2 separate regions of the Homo sapiens genome follow, and region 2 is linked to region 1. The links come from fine-mapping of genetic effects on gene expression. Tissue or cell type: whole blood. Region 1 holds a variant in brackets; the other region holds the start of a gene. All regions are shown on one strand. Distances are from middle to middle. Region 1 overlaps TLR4 (toll like receptor 4). Region 2 holds the start of TLR4 (toll like receptor 4).

What was found. PIP is the estimated chance that this variant, and not a neighbour inherited with it, causes the effect.
Region 2: it holds the start of TLR4, and the variant in region 1 is fine-mapped to the expression of TLR4 in whole blood (TOPMed, PIP above 0.99).

What each region holds. Positions count from the first base shown.
Region 1 is chr9:117,721,238-117,729,579 of GRCh38, reverse strand. It overlaps TLR4 (toll like receptor 4), which reads right to left. Exons shown (of 3, transcript NM_138554.5): 3 at 4,845-8,342. Among named protein-coding and RNA genes, the nearest start is that of TLR4, 21 kb to the right of the region's middle. The variant G/C (reference allele first, on the strand shown) is at 3,865.
Region 2 is chr9:117,701,001-117,709,342 of GRCh38, reverse strand. TLR4 (toll like receptor 4) reads right to left here and starts at 4,940. Exons shown (of 3, transcript NM_138554.5): 1 at 4,778-4,940; 2 at 614-780. The coding sequence starts at 4,870. It also overlaps the pseudogene RNU6-1082P. RefSeq lists enhancers at 3,055-4,254, 4,370-4,870, 4,841-4,910, 4,921-4,970, 4,871-5,371 and 1 more.

The sequences.
Region 1 (8,342 bases):
TTGTTGGGTCAGGCCACAGGAGACATCACAGTTGCTACCAACTCTCTAAAAGAACAGATTGTGTTTCTGGCCCTGAAAGTCCCACTCCATGCTTTGTGGGACAGAGCTAAAAAGGGCTATAGTATCTATGTCTCGTGATTTTTGAGTTCATTTTCTAACAAGATCAGGAATCTCTTTGACATTCATCAAAGCAATTGAGGGTAAAGTCTCCACGTTCTTTTGATGGGTTCCTAGGGCCAGTCTTTTCCGTTTCAATCCACCCACCACACCATCCCCTGAGTAACAGAGTTACATCTCATTTCCGATCTTTTCCCTCCCTAGAATAAAGAACTTCAGTATTTCTAAACACCTTAAGAGACATTCCAGGCCCTTCTGGGTCTTCCCTGCTGCTGTCCTTCTAATTTTTTTCTTCTTTATCTCACCTTTATTTTTACTATTAAAAACAATTGTAATAATAGGTATCACAAATTTAAGTGCTTACTATATGATGGTGTGCCAATTAATTTCTATTCATCATATTAATGTATTTTATCCCATTATAATTCTCTGAGGCAAACATCTGCAGTATCCTCAATGTACCAGACTAGATGATGAAACTTAGGAACAGAAGGGTTAAGTAGCGTAACCTGCCCCAGGTCACACAGCTTCTATGTGGTAGATCAGTGATTTAGGTCTGTCTGTCACCAAACCCCAAATCACTAATCTTTACCTCATGTATGTCACACTACAATATAGCCACTTGTTTACATGTCTGTCCCTCTGTCACCTAAATCATCAACTCCTACCAAGAGATTAAGAATCATGCTTTTTTTTCCCATTGTTTTTGTCCCTGCTGGAACAGGGTCATGGTGGCCACACAGTATATATTTCCCCAATTTTAACATTTTTTTATTTTAAAAAGAGGAGGGCAATATTGCCAATGGATGGGGTTGATATAAAGATTTTCTTTTTCCTGAAATGGAGTCTTGCTCTGTCACCCAGGCTGAAGTGCAATGGTTCACCCTTGGCTCACTACAACCTCCGCCTCCCAGATTCAGGTGATTCTCGTGCCTCAGCCACCTTTGCACCATGACGCTCAGCTAATTTTTGTATTTTTGGTAGAGATGGGGTTTCATCATGTTGGCCAGGCTGGTCTTGAACTCCTGGCCTCAAGTGGTCTGCCCGCCTCAGCCTCCCAAAGTGCTAGGATTACAGCTGTGAGCCACCATGCCTGGCCTCCCAGTTGTGTTTTATTTTATTGTATTTCCTAGAAGTAGATAGAAGTATGGTAAGAGCTCAAATCTGTCTCAGGTTAGTTCAAATCCTGCTTCTGTGACCTCTGGATTTGTAATGCTCTAAGGTGGGGTTCTTAGCTGCACTGTGCCTAAGTTTCCTATCTTTAGAGTGGAGTAGATTAATTAATTCACTTAAGCACTTTGAAGAGTGTTGTGCATGGAGGAAGCTCTCCAGAAATGCAAACTTATTGTCAGTTGGCTGCCAGATGACCCAATATACTTTGCATACACTTTTAGAAATGTACCCAGGATACTGCTCTTCCCTGTCTGCACAGTTAGACTTGACCCTCCTGAGCATGGAGGTCATACTTTATTTGGATTTTTCTGGCATTCCTCTTCAGGGGCTGGCAGGTAGGATGAGCTCAGTCAACATTTTTAAATTAATAGACAGTGTTCTGGATAATGCCTGTTCTACCATCCACGCTATGGCAGTATAGGGATTCTCAGTTGCCTATTTTTTTTTTTTTTTTTTTTTGAGATGCAGTCATGCTCTCATGCCCAGGCCAGAGTGCAGTGGAGCAATCTTGGCTCACTGCAACCTCTGCCTCCCAGGTTCAAGCGATTCTCCTGCCTCAGGCACCTCAGTAGCTGGAACTACAGGCATGCGCCACCACGCCTGGGTAGTTTTTTTTTTATTTTTAGTAGAGATGGGGTTTCACCATATTGGCCAGGCTGGTCTTGGACTCCTGACCTCATGATCTTTCCGGCTGGGCCTCCCAAAGTGCTGGGATTACAGGTGTGAGCCACTGAGCCCAGCCTCTTCGTTGCCTTTCTAGTTTCCATGCCTATGAGAAATTCATTCTACTGCCCTAACACTTGCTTATCAGCTAGTTACTGAAGCTGACCACATGTTGAGACCACACAGCATGTGTCAAGCACCATGCTGAGTATATGACATCCATCACCCATTTCGTAAAAACACATTGTATTCCACTACCCCAGTGTACTGGGAGACAGCAATGAACCCATTTTAAAACATTTCCCATGGAACTTACAAAGGAGGGGATATCTGTGTACATCCATTTAACATTTTCTACCTCCCAGAAAGCTCAAGTAGCACCTTACTGAGGGTCAAACAAAGCTGAAAAAAAGAGAAAGACTCTGCAGGAGGCTTCTCCTAGGCAGAATATTGGTGTTGCTACCCCAGAACAAAGGCTTTCTGCTCCAAGCCAGCCAGAATCTCCTGGTGAGAAAAGGGCAGGATCCAACTCCAATAGCAAGCCTTTATATCATATCCAAATGCATGTAAAAAAAAAACTCTTGGTTCTTATTCCATATCACAGGTGAAAATAATGGGCCAACTCTCATGCATAGGCGGACTGATGTAGTCAGTTTATGTATCTCCATCTTTATATCTGTCATCAGAGCTGCCAAACAATAAATGAGACATTTGAGGAAATAATCAGCTCTGTCACTGGATTTTTTAGCATAATCTGAACAATCATACTTAGGAGATATTTCAGGGTAGGATTGAAGAGCTCAGCTTTTGGAATTAGGCACATATGGGTTCTAATCTTCCATCTTACTATCTGTAATTTACTAGCTAAGTTGTTTGGATGGATCGGTTCAAACTCCCTTAGCCTCAGTTTCCTCCTCTGCCAAATGGCGATGAAGACACCTGCCTCACAGAGTGGTTGGGAATATTAAATGGGATCATGCACGTAAAACACCTAACGTAGTGCCTGGTTCGTGAAAACTGCTAAAAGACTGTTTCACTTGGTATAAATGGACTTAAGAATGTTGTATTTTTTCATTATTATGATCTTTATTGTTATTGTTTTGTGGTAGTAGAAAGAATCCCTATAGTGGATAGAAAGCTGAGCAGAAGTTTTGGAAATGACAAAAACAAACAAAAAAGAACAAAAATTAAGATCACAAAAGCTAAACCGTCAACAAGAAACCCAAAACATAAAACAGAATCAAGTAGAACTGCTCCAGTTGATTCCTCACTTGATTCTCCACCCCTTTTCCTCCATCTCTCCCCTTTTTTATTATTATTGGTAGAGGTAGTATTATCAATAGAATTTCACTACTGCTACTACCACCACCACCACCACTAGCCTGGTGGCTTCTTCATACAAAGTCAGCATGGTGCAGTGGGAACAGGTAGATCTGGTTCAAATCCAGACCATGCCTCTCACTATCCTTGTGACATCAGGCAGAACAGGAGGCTAACTAAGAGGCAGGGAAGGCCAGGTTGAGGCCTTCACTCATTGGCATAAAAATAAGAGAAGAAGGTGTATGGAGGGGATCATGGCAGAGAGGAGTCAGGACTAGATTGCAGCTCCAGACAGAGCAGCATCCAGAGGCTTGCATTGTGAATTTTAGCTCCAAATTGACTGCAAGAACAAACCAACATTCCCAAGAGGACCCACAAAACCTCTCAAGGAAGTGGACTGCTCCTGCAGGACCCAGAAGACACCCCAAATGCTGTGAGTGGCAAGAGGGAGAGGGATAACAGACTACAAATATGGTGCAGTGTATATTGCTTGGGTGACGGGTGCACCAAAATTTCACAAGTCACCACTAAAGAACTTACTCATGTAATGAAATACCAATACCTTATGGAAAAATAAAATAAAAAATAGGG[G/C]AAGAAGAAATTGCATAACTCTGTTATGCAGTTTAACAATTTTGTGGTAACAAGATGATCACTTAACAACAGCTTCTTCAACCCTTATGTTGTAACATTCTAGGATGTTTGTCTGTTTCTTGAAAGGGAGGGTAGGGTCACTCCAATTCTGGGAAAGTTTTTGAAGCCGAAGAACAAGTTGTATTATGTCAAGACTGAGTTATAGCTTCCCAGTGTCACACAGGAAGTTTGTATCAACACCAGGATAAGGACTTGGGCCTCCTAAATGCAAGGCACCACAAACCAGTGGGCTTAATGCTGAGACATTACCTAGGCTTCTGTCGGGCTGTATGCTCCCCATTTCATAATGAAAGCACACAAAAAATTAGCATTTTTGATGACTGTGAAGTGCCTTGCACTGTTTTAAGCACTTTGTTTGTATAAGCACTCATTTAATATATCATCCTTAACTGACAGATAAGCAAATTGAGACATAGTCCAGATAAATGTCTTTGTCAGGGTCAACTGATGCCAATTAACTATTAGCTTTCATGTAATTCAGTATTTATACTATATTGTTTCTTTCCTCAACTCTGCTATACATGGTCTTCTACTTATTACTTCCCAGATTTATCATTTACATTTTTGCTCTTCTTTTAGGTTAAGAATTTAAAGATCCATCTGCAGAGCTGTTCTTTTACAATTTCCAGCTCAAATGGGCCCTCCTCTGTAAAGCCTTCTCTGATTGCTTCTAGGAAGAACAACCCTCCACTCCCCACCACCCTGCATTTTGGCATAACATTGTGTGTGTGTGTGTGTGTGTGTGTGTGTGTGTGTGTGTGTGTGTATTGACATGCCTCTCTTGCCAAAATGAATCTGAACTCCGTAACTTTGAGGGCACTTCTTGGTCATTTACTTCTGCAGCTTCATGTGCCTTTTCAACCACAGAGTAGCTTCTTCATAAATATTAGATGGCCAGATGAGTAAAATAAAGAACACTCTCAAGGAGAAAAAAGAAAGTGAGAACTTTATTTCCGTGTACTGAACTGCCAACAAAACTGAGAGGTAGATATTATCCCCATTTTAAGCCGAGACAAACAAGACAGATACCATAAGACAGGATCAGAACACAGATCTGTCTGATTCCCAAAGCTTTTGTTCTCTCTAATACATGAGAAGAAAGACAGGCACATTAATGGTCACATGCAGAAGCGGTTAATGGAGTTCACAGACAAGAAAGGAAGAAAGAGAGCAAGGAGAAAATGAACATCAAAAAATAAGGAAGTTGGAATACTGACAGGTCAAAGCAGAGAGAAAGACAAGACTTACTAAGCAAGAACTAACTTAGTGCACAATAAGAAAATGCAAAGGAAGGAAGATTGTGGTGACATTTAGAGAGCTTAGAATGGCAACAGAATTGAGCTTCAGATATTTGGAAGAGTTTTATTCAAAACCGTGGCAAGAGCCAGAAAAAGTAAAGGGCAGAGACAAGGGCCTGCAGCAGGCAAGGAGGAAGCATGATTTAGAGACAGATGCCACAGCTCAGGAAGGGAGCGGCTTGACCCTGCTGCTTGGAAAGGGGCATGCCTGGGAGTGCTGGCACTAAGGACACTGTTGGTTGCTATTTGCAGTGGCATAAGGATGAAGGATGATAGCAGCCCTATAGTGATATAAGGGACCATCATGAATGGCATTTCAAGAAAGAAAGCAGGAAGGAATGAGGAACCAGAGTTCTCTGTTTTTATCAATCCACAACTGTGAAATTTATGAAGAAAGTTTACTCTCAACTGACAAGCATTCACATATGGTAAGAGGCACAAGGGGTCGAATGGTACCTCTGTGACTAACAGTGTAGGAGCCTGGGAGATATCACTTTAAATGTCAAGTATGGGAAAGAAGAAAGAATAATTGCAAGGATTAGTCCACAAAAGTGCTTGAGTTTAGAGAAACTGTATTCTTCTCCTTTAAGATAATTAAAACTGACCAAGTATACACATTGCTGAAATAGAGGAGACTCCTGTAAGAATGACATATAGCTTAATTTAAAAGCTTTTGGAATATGTAGGCAAAATGGAAGATATTCTTGAGTTTATAACATGGGGCAAAAGAGAAACTCCTCCTTGGAGGAGTTTTCAATCTGTTATCATAATAACTCCTTGCATTTATGTAGCACTTCCCTAAATTTTATTGGAGGCTCTGTCTCATTTCATTCTCAAAACTTTCACAGAAGACAGCGTAAAAATAACGTTATCTCATAGATAAACAGAGACCAAAGAGCAAAGAGATCAAGAGATTTGCCTTTGTTCAACAGCCTGTTAGTGGTGGAGCCATTTCACTATCAATGTCTTGTTTCCACAGCCTTTCACCTATAACTCAATGGGGTTGATAGCTTAATCCTTTTCAGAAATGAGGGAACATGGGAAATATTATAAATACATGGATACATCATGACTTGACGAATGAGTCTCCCGTTTTGATATAGCATCATCAGGTTTAGAACGCTAAAACCACATGTTAAGGATGCTGGAAAATCTGGATGATGAAGTTACACCTCTAATCATAGAATAGAATTCCTGGAATGGACATTTACTCCAATTGCCACAATTTATAGGTAAGGAAACAGCCCTGGAGATGTGAACATGCTAGAATGTCAGAGAGCTGGCCTGACCCTCAGCAGCCGTTTGGTTCATTCCTTTCTGACTGCCAATCTTTCTTGTGACACCTTCAAAATTTTTCCAAATCTGCATACCTTTTATATAATTCATTTCATCCCGTTTTTTTCCTAAGTTGGCCCACATTTTAAACTTAAATATATTTTAAAGAGATAATTGATTCTTAGCTAGTCACAAAATTTATTATAAATAAAAGTAACCATGAAAATAAACATATAACCACTAAAGGTAATACATTCATCTGTCAACCACATAAAATCATCTTATTTACTAACATGTCACACTTTTGAAAATGCTGATCTGACCTAAATGTCCCATTTTACAAATGAGAGACCTGAGCCCAGAGGTGCGCTCCCGGTGGCAGACCTGAATCCTAAACCTCACTACCTCTATCGCTGTTCACTTATCTGATCTCAGCTGTTAATATGCCAGAAACTGGCAAAGGTATTCCCTGCCTTTAGTGGTGCTAGACTCTCAGGTGCTGAAACCACAGCTAATTCAGCCAAAGATGATGTGTAGAGAGGACTCAGAAGGCCCTATTAATAACTCAGCTGAGCACAGCACTAGCCAGATATTCATCCCCTGCCATTAATTTCAAAAGTGCTCTTTGCAAGCAGGAAAATTTTGACAGCAGGTGTTTCCCACTGGGGAGCAGTAGACTCCTCAGAAGACTCAGGGTCTCAGCTTAAAGACCAAAACTACTGAATTTCAACCGTCAGTGATCACTTCCCCAATTCCCCTCAACGATAAGGAAAAAGGAGTTTCTGGGAAGATTGGCAGTGGCCCAGCAAGTTTTCGCAAGGAAATCCTGTGTTTTTCAGAGGGGAAAGTCATTTTTGGAATCTTAGTACTCAAGGCAAGATGAATACTTAGCAAAAGTGGAGTTAAATTTTACTTTGATATATTTTGGACTGGAAACAAAAAACAACATCACATTGACAACAGATGCCTCAGAGAGTTTAGAAAAGACCACAACATTTTTCTGGTATATATTTATGTGGGGTCTCAGCTACCCAGGATGATAAAGAAGGGAAAATGACAACGTGATAGGTAGAAACTAGGAGAACTAAAATGATTGCATGGACACAACATCTAAATGGATGTAGTGAGCTCACCATCAAATAGGCCAATCCTAGTATCCCAAAGAGTCTGATCTAGTGGGATTGAGAAGAATCAACTATACAGTGTAAAATAAAAATACATTATCTGACCTTGCCTGGGCTATCATGAATCTTAGCAATAAATCTCAAGAACAAAACCAATAACCATATTAAATGTGGGTGGTTATTCTCCATTTTCCATTATAACAGTAATTCCCAAATCTGTCTGTGCACGAAAACTGGGAGAATATTTTAAAATATAAATTCCTTAGGACTAACCTCTGATATTGAACCAGAATTTCTAGCAATAAAGATCATAAAGATAGATAATTAGTACCTAGATACACAGACACATAGATAGCAGAATGAAAGTCATTAAGTGATTCTTAAGCCAAGCATTTGTTTAAAAGTGAGAGTTTGGGACCTGCTCAACTTTGTCATCTTCATATATGGTTTCCATTTTAATCGTTGTATTGAAATAAAATCAGCTGTAGACTGCCTGGAATTCTTTGTCAAAATGAAGTTTGCAAAAAGAGGCTAGAAGAAGATAGAAAAGATGTAAGAGAGAGAGCAAGTGATTTGGAGACACAAGATCAAGGAACCGATCTTGGGATAGAAAATACTCTTCTCCAGTTCCATCCATGCTCTCACTTATGAGTGGAAACTAAATAATTTGTAGACATGGACATGGAGAATGAAATAACAGACATTGAGGACTCAGAAAGGT
Region 2 (8,342 bases), 20 kb after region 1:
TGCAGTTCATGAAATCTTTCTTGACTACCCACCACAGAGAAGGCCCCTCTTCTGAAAAATACAATTAGTTACCTTTAGTTTAAACATAATTTATCACCTACTGTTATATGTCGCTATCTTTATATCAGTTTCCAGATCCAAAAAATCATAATTAAAATGTGTTGACTATATACTATGTACCCAGGACCATACCCAGGACTTTAAGGTATTAACTCTTTCAAGAAGATATGCCTCCTTAACAACAGGGGCTGTGTGTTATATATCAATATATGCCTGTCTTCTTGCAGAGTGTACAACATATAGCAAGTAGTCAATAAATAGCTGCTTATGAAAGAATTTAAGCTAATTTTCTCTCCTGTCTTAAAAGAAAACCTAAAATTAGAATTGCCCTTAGAAGCTGTCTCAGCCAACTGCCTACTTCACAGATTAGAAAACTGAGACCTGGAGAATAGAGGTAGCTTGCTCAAGGTTATATAGTTAATAAGACATCTGTTGTATGAATGAATAAGTGAATGAAGATGAGACTCCACAAACCAAGCTTTCCAGTCCAATAATGAAATGACAGGACAATGAACACCTCACCTTGTGCAGTATGTAAAAGTGGATTCATTACCTGGATAAATCCAGCACCTGCAGTTCTGGGAAACTGAAGAAGCTATAGCTGCCTAAATGCCTCAGGGGATTAAAGCTCAGGTCCAGGTTCTTGGTTGAGAAGGGGAGGTTGTCGGGGATTTTGTAGAAATTCAGCTCCATGCATTGATAAGTAATATTAGGAACCACCTGCAATGATTACACATGACATGAAGTATCTTTACTGCATGGTCTCCCAACTCCCCTCTCCTAGACCAGAGATGGTGGAGAGGGGCCTCTTTTTGTGCAAGCACAAAATTCAGTCAACCTTTCATCCATCTGTCCATCCTTCCATCCATATATCCATCCATCCATTCACTCAATTCATGCTTATAAATTGTCTTACTCTAGATTAGAAAGTAAAGAGCACCTACTACGTGCTCAGCATTCTAACCTCCGTGATAAAACGGCAGCATTTAGCAAGAAGCAATGGAATCGGGGTGAAGGGCTGAGGCTCCGGAGTCTGAAAGCTCTGGGTTTCATGCCAGCTCTTCTGTGTGGTTTAGGGCCAAGTCTTTAAAAACAAAACAAAATAAAACGAACAAAAGAAAAACCTCAGTGAGCCTCATTTTATCATATGTAAAATGTAGGTAATAAAATATCCAATATCGTGCTTGCTGCAGTAGCACATACACTAAAATTGGAAGGATACAGAGAAGATGAGCATGGCCCCTGCACAAGGATGACACACAAATCCATGATGCGTTCCATATTTTCATGATCTATGCAGCAAATCACCATGGCACACATTTACTTATGTAATAAACCTGCATGCTCTGCACATGTGCCTCTGAACTTAAAAGTTGAAAATACAAAAAATAAATAAAATATCCAGTATCATTTTAAATACTCCATATCATTGGGGAGACTGTCTGGCAGTCAAGATGTCCAGACCTTCCTTAGTCATGGCCCAGATTTTGACAACTGCATTCTTTTTCTTGGCTCATTGACCCTTGAGCAAAGTGATGTAGAAATAGGGGGAAATCTTTAGAGTGCATGGATTCCCATGGTGGAACCTAGTAAATAAGGTCAAGTGCTTTATGCTGTCTTTGTTTTTACACTGCTTTCTAGCCTACTTTCCCACATTCTTTGTAAGCCTAATTCTCTAACGCTCCCATCTAATTTCTGAATGCTCTCATTTCCTCCAACAAAATTCCTTGCAGAAGCCAGCTAATTGTAGTTTTCTGTTGTTTGAAACCAATAGAATGTTTGAAGGATTAAATGAGATAAGGTGTTTAAAGAGTTTATTTAAAAGCCCGCTACAGTATAAGTGATCAATAGATGTCAACATTAATTATTATCATCTATCATTAATCCCTTACCATATGCCTGCATAGTTCTTGTTTGTTATATACTTTCACTTAATCTTCAAATAAGCATTTAAAGATGAGGAAAATGGAAATTCAAAGAAATGAAGTAATATGCGCAAAGTCAGAGTTCAAACATGCAGATCTTCATTCGTATGTCTGCTTAAATGTTGCAAGCCATGGAGCCTCAAAGACAATATTGTCTAATAGAAACAGTGCCAGGCACTCTTTCTTTGCCCTCTTTTATTCCCTTTCACGGGAAGCACAACCATCTAACATTATGTTGTCTATCTGATTGTTCTCATCGTATTGTTCATCTCCTGTATTCCATTGCAAGTTTGATGGGTTTGCCCACTGCTTTGTCTCCAGCACTCAGAATGGTGTCTGGCAAATGGTTGGTGCTCAATAAATATTTGCTGAATCACTAACTGATTGAATAACTGATTAAATGAAGGTTTACTTAAGTCCAAATTGTAGGCATTTCCTGCCAAGTGCTGTGGGCATTACAAAGAAAAATATGATGCAGCTCCAGACTTCAATGGACTCACAGTCTAGAGTAAGAGTTTAGATAGGAGCAAAGCTAACACTATCTCAAGGGGCCATAAAATAGGCTTAGAAAATATGCCCTGTGGTTCAGAGAAAGCAGAGATCAAGTCTGGATTCAGGAAAGGCTTCCCAGAAAAGGAAGATTTTAAAGTGGGTCTTGGAAGATGAGTAAGGTTTAGATATGTGGAAAGGGGAAGAAAAACATGTCCTAAGGAGAGGACAACGTGAGCACGTAAAGAGTGGAAAACAAACTCAGATTAGCTGGTGAGTGGTGGGAGTGGTGAAATCTAAGTAAGAGGGCAAGCCAGATCAGGAGGGCCTCAGACTTTGTCCTGCAGCAATTATTTCAATCATTTATCACTTACACATCTAGCGGCTACTGTGTGCTGGCCACTGGAAATATAGTGGTAAATAAAACCAGCAATGATCCTGCCTCCTTACCGATTCCATTACAAAGGGAGAGAGAGAAAATAAACAAACAAAAATATAAAATGTTGTGCTCTAGAAAAAAAAATATTAAGCAGTATAAGGGGATTTGAGGCAAATAAGTGAGGCTGGAGAGCTCTACATGGGGCAATCAAGGAAGACTGCCCTGAGGAGGGGACATTTAATCAGAGATCTGAATGGAGTGATTAAAGCATGAAAAGGACTTGGGCTGCACTGACCAATACGGTAGTCACTAGCCATACACAGTTATCAAACACAAGAAATGTGAATAGTGTAAATTGAGAAGTGTGGTAAATGTAAAACATATACTAAATTCCAGACTTAGTACCAAACAAGGAATGTAAAAATATCAATAATAGGTAAATATATATTAAAATTTTAAACATTATTTTAAATACGCTAAGTTAAATAAAACTATTATCGAAATTAAATTCACTTGTTTCTTTTTTTAATGAGGCTACTAAAAACTTTAAAAGTACATATGTGGCTCACATAATATTGCCAATGGATAGCACTGATCTAGCATTCTAGGTAGAAGAAATAGCCAGTGCAAAGGCCCTGTGGTAGAAAGCTGTTCTAATGGCAATGGAGAGTTATTAAAAGTTTTTAAGGAGAGTAATTTGTTAGATTGAAGCCTAAGGAAAAATAATAACAACAAATGCAAGTACATAACAAACAAGAACGTGCAGAATGAATTAAAGGAAGAAGACTGGAATCAGGAAAGCAGTTAGTGTGTAAGAGTCAATGCCAGGGGAAATGAGGGCCTGCCTTACAGTGGAACTAAGGGGATGGGCAGGGATGGACAGGCTTCAGGGACTGACAGGAAAAGGTACATGGGGAAAAGAAGTCAAGTTTGGCTGTGGTTTTATCTCGCAGTGAGCCTAATTAGAAAATCTATCTCCATTAACCTAACAGCAGAGGGATACAGAGAAGAGGACAAGGAGGAGGACTATGGGCAGGGAATTGAGGGAAGGGATGGCTTCAAGATAATGAATTAGTCTTTGCTAAATATTACTTGATTTTCTCCTATATCCTCAACTTCAGGACTGCAGCTGGCTTTTTCTCTCTTGAGTTTCTGACCCTGCCTCACTGTAAATCATTTTCTTAGCTGTTCGGCTCTACTATGGGTTTCTAAAGCAACTGTGAAGTCTGCGCAGGGGAAAAACAAAAGAGATCCATCATGAATAAGATTACCAACCAGCTGATTGGTATTTCACTAAGAAAGAAACTGTTGCATTAGCTGACATTATACATATTTCCCTCTTGCTTTTTTCTTCTCTCTCTCTCTCTTTTCCTTTTTCATTCTCTTATTTTTTTCATCCTCTGGACTAAACTATATTACTGCATACAGAAGTCTGACACCCACTTAGAAAGTTCTTTCTCTAGAGACACACACACAAAAGCCATCTTTTTCCTGAGATTGAAAGGAGCAGGGTGACTGCTTGAAGCTGAGTGTAAAGACCACCAGTGGGAAGAAATGACACTGAAGCAGTCTGCTTACTCTCTAGTGAAGAAGGTATTATAATTCTCTTACAGATGCGAAAACTAGTCTCAGACAGGTTTGATAATTTCTTCACAGAGCCACAAGGTAGCAGAGCAGGGACCTTAAGCAGATCTATGTTATCTCATGCCCCTGTTAGCACTCAAAATTTCCAAATGGAACAAACCCCCAATGGCTGCCTCTAGTGCCCTGTAACAATGAATTATTTGATCTCTGTGGCTTCTTGAGTCTTTAAGGTAATTTAACTCTTTTTTTTTTTTGCAAAAATAAACAAACCAGGGCACACAGTGAGAAGTTCTGGGCAGAAGTGAGGGAAAGTTCAGAGGAGCTGACTCCAGCCACATACCTCCACGCAGGGCTCCCAGCTTTCTGGTCTCACGCAGGAGAGGAAGGCCATGGCTGGGATCAGAGTCCCAGCCAGGCGCGAGGCAGACATCATCCTGGCATCATCCTCACTGCTTCTGTGAGCAGCAGTGGCCCTGTGAATGCGTGGCTCGCTATCACCGTCTGACCGAGCAGTTTCTGAGGCACTGGTGTCTTCTCTTCCTCGAGCCGCCCCACAGCAATTGGTGTATTCAAAGCAGTTCTGGGCTAAAGGGTGAGAGGAAGTGAAAGCGGCAACCTTAGCATTCTGGACTTTTGTTTCTCTAATAGTTATCTCTTTTGTCACAGGAGAGGAAGTTAGAAGAAGAAAACGCCTGCAGACCAGTGGCTAAAGAAACAGCAAGAGGAAGCTAGTTGGCTTTTATCCCAATTAGTCATCTGACCTCTGCCTGGGCTTGGTGAATTTAGGAAAACAATCAGGTTCTATTAAAATAGCCCTTGTAACTCTCTAGGATGACGGTGATTTTCCAATTTTGTTTCAGCTGTGGAAACACTATTTGTATTAGTTTGCTGGGGCTGCCATAAGGAAATACCACAGACTGGGTGGCTTAAACAACAGACATTCATTTTCTCACAATTCTAGAGGCTTCCAGTCTGAACTCAAGGTGTCAGCAAGTGTGTCTGAATTCTAATCTCCCCTTCTTATAAGGACACCAGTTATGTTGGATTAGGGCCCACCATAATGACCTCATTCTACCTTACATACCTCTTTCAAGGCTCTCTCTCCATATACAGTCATAGTCTGAGGTAGAGGGGTTAGGACTTCGATATGTAGGTTTTTGCAGGACACAATTTGGCCCGCCCCTTCTTGTGAAGAAACTCACATACAAAACTGAAAATAAACCTCAACTGAAACACAGTTTGAAAAGTACAAGAAGATTGGGAAAAGTCTGGGATTTCAGAATGGAATATACTGAAGTTCAGATCTCAGCTGGGTGACTCATGGCTTTGAGGCATTGGTCAAGTCATGTAAACCGCTAAGCTTTACTTTCTTTCTTTTCTTTTTTCATTTTCTGTATTATGGTAAAATCACATAACATAACATGACATAACATAAAATTTATTATCTTGACCATTTGTATGTGTACAATTTAGTGGCATTAATTATGTTCATATTTTTGTACAATCATCACCACTATTCATTAATAAATAACTCCCCATTTCCCCTTTCCCTAGGCCCTTGAATCTATGCACTACTTTTGTCTCTATAATCTTGACTACTCTAGGCAGCTCTTAGAAGTGGAATCATACAGTATGTATCTTTTTGTCACTGGCTTATTTCACTTTGCATAATGTCCTCAAGGTTCTTTTCTGTGTAGTATAGATCAAAGCCTCCTTCCTTTTTAAAGCTGAACAATATTCCATTGTATGTATAGACCACATTTTGCTTATCCATTTGTCTGTTCATGGACACTTGCATTGTTGCCACACGTTAGCTATTGTGAATAATGCTGCCATAAACATGGTTGTACAAATATCTCTTAAAGTCTCTGTTTTCAATTCTTTTGGATACGTACTCAGAAGTGAGATTGCTGGATCATGTGGTAAATCTATTTTTAATTTTTTGAGCACCCACCATATGATTCTCCACAGCATCTGTACCATTTTACATTCCCACAAATGGTGTACAGGAGTTCTCATTTTTTCACATCTTCACCAACACTTATTATTACTTTCTGGTCTGTAAAATGTGGTAATCACTTTTAATCATAGCAGAAGCTTGCATTTATAAAATGTATTAAAATAAAGATACGCAATGGTAGTCAAATTATACAAACCTACCAACCTTTAGTTTTCTGGTCTTTAAAACGAAGATAATCGCATGTGTTTTGAATTACTGAATTAAGCTAACTTACGTAAAACGTCTAGTCTAGAGCATCATCATTACATTCCATAAATGAGAGCTATGATGAGGATTGAAAATGTGGATAGAATGAAGATGATAATATGTATCTCAAAGTATTGTATTGGGATTAAATGAACTGGCATTTGTAAAGCTTTTAGGACAGTGTCTGGAAAGTAGCAAGTGCAATGTAAGTTTCTGTTAAATAAGAACCTGATTTAAAACAGGAATATTATGCATGCTAAGTCCTAGATAGTTCTACTGTAATATCCTCCAAGCACTTCCAATCCAACGTGTCAAAAACCAAGCTGTGAGGGACCATTTTGTGGTGGACTGGGCACAAACTCTTGTAGACTCCATCAACACACCAGTAGAGTTAAGATAAAAACAACCTCCATGTCAAAGCTTTGCTCTGAGTATTGAGATTATTCATGTAAAGATTTTAGAGCAGTGCCTGACACAGAGTAGGTGCTCAATAAAGTTTAGTTCCCTGGAAAGTTAATGGTGTTTCACTTTGACATAGTCATCCAAGGTGGAAATCTCTTTGACTTTATTTCCCTTACTTCCTCATTTCTCATGCTAAACATGTATTAACCCAATTGTCTTCTTTTCTGTGTTCTTGATGTTCTGGCATCTGGGAAGAGACTGCACTTACCAGGGCTAGTTAGTTCTAAAAAATAGCAAAAGATTTGCTCTGGAGCATGCCTTATGCACACTAAGCAATCCAGAGCCCTTCCTCTGAACCACCTCCTCTACCTGGCTTTTACACCCAAGTAGACACCGTTATTCAGCCCTAATCATCACAGGTCCAGGTACCAGACAACTAGAGACAGACCCTCTACCCCAGAGCCCACTGAGGTTATTCAAACTAGCCAGTCCTATCCCTGCTTACCCTGCCTTGCCTTGCCTTTTCTGCAGTAACAACAATAAAAGCTTGTGCCTATAATTTCCTCTTGCTCCCTCTGCCTCCTGACGGACTCTGGTGCTACCAATGTGGCCCTGCATGGTGTGGCATGCCCCCGCTTCTTAGGAACTGTAAACAACAAACTATATTTCCAGTGGCATCATCTTCTGATCTGTTGTTTTCACCATAGCCGAATAATAAAACCTACATTTTAAAAAATGTTCCACCAAGTTGTAGAAATTGTATCTGTAAAATAATTCCAAAATGTCAGTCGCCATTTCTACTACCATTACTATTGAACATATCCCACGGCCTAGACTAGTTCAATATACTTTAAGAAGCCTCCCAAAGTCTAGATTCACCTCTTTCAATGTACCAGCTCTTCCAATTGATTCTTCATCCTGCTGTTGAAAACATCTTTCTAAAATAGAAATACGTTTAACTCATGTCATGCTAATAATGATTTCAGGCTGGGTATTGCCTAGATAAAAAATCTCCTGGCCTACCCCCATCACATATACACATACAGAAACACTCCACTTCCTAAGAATGAGAAACAAATATGTGGGTCATTTCAAGCCAGACATAACTAGACCCCATTACTGGGACACAGTGCTTAAGTGAATAGAGTAATACAAGTGTGTAATAGACAAATGCACTTTCTTCCCATCATTTGGAGAGGAAACCGCTTGATAGTCTAGATGAGGAACTAAGGAAAAGGGCCCAGGGAAGTCCTTTCAACTATGTTTTCGGAGATGTTAATACATGTGTTTTATAGAA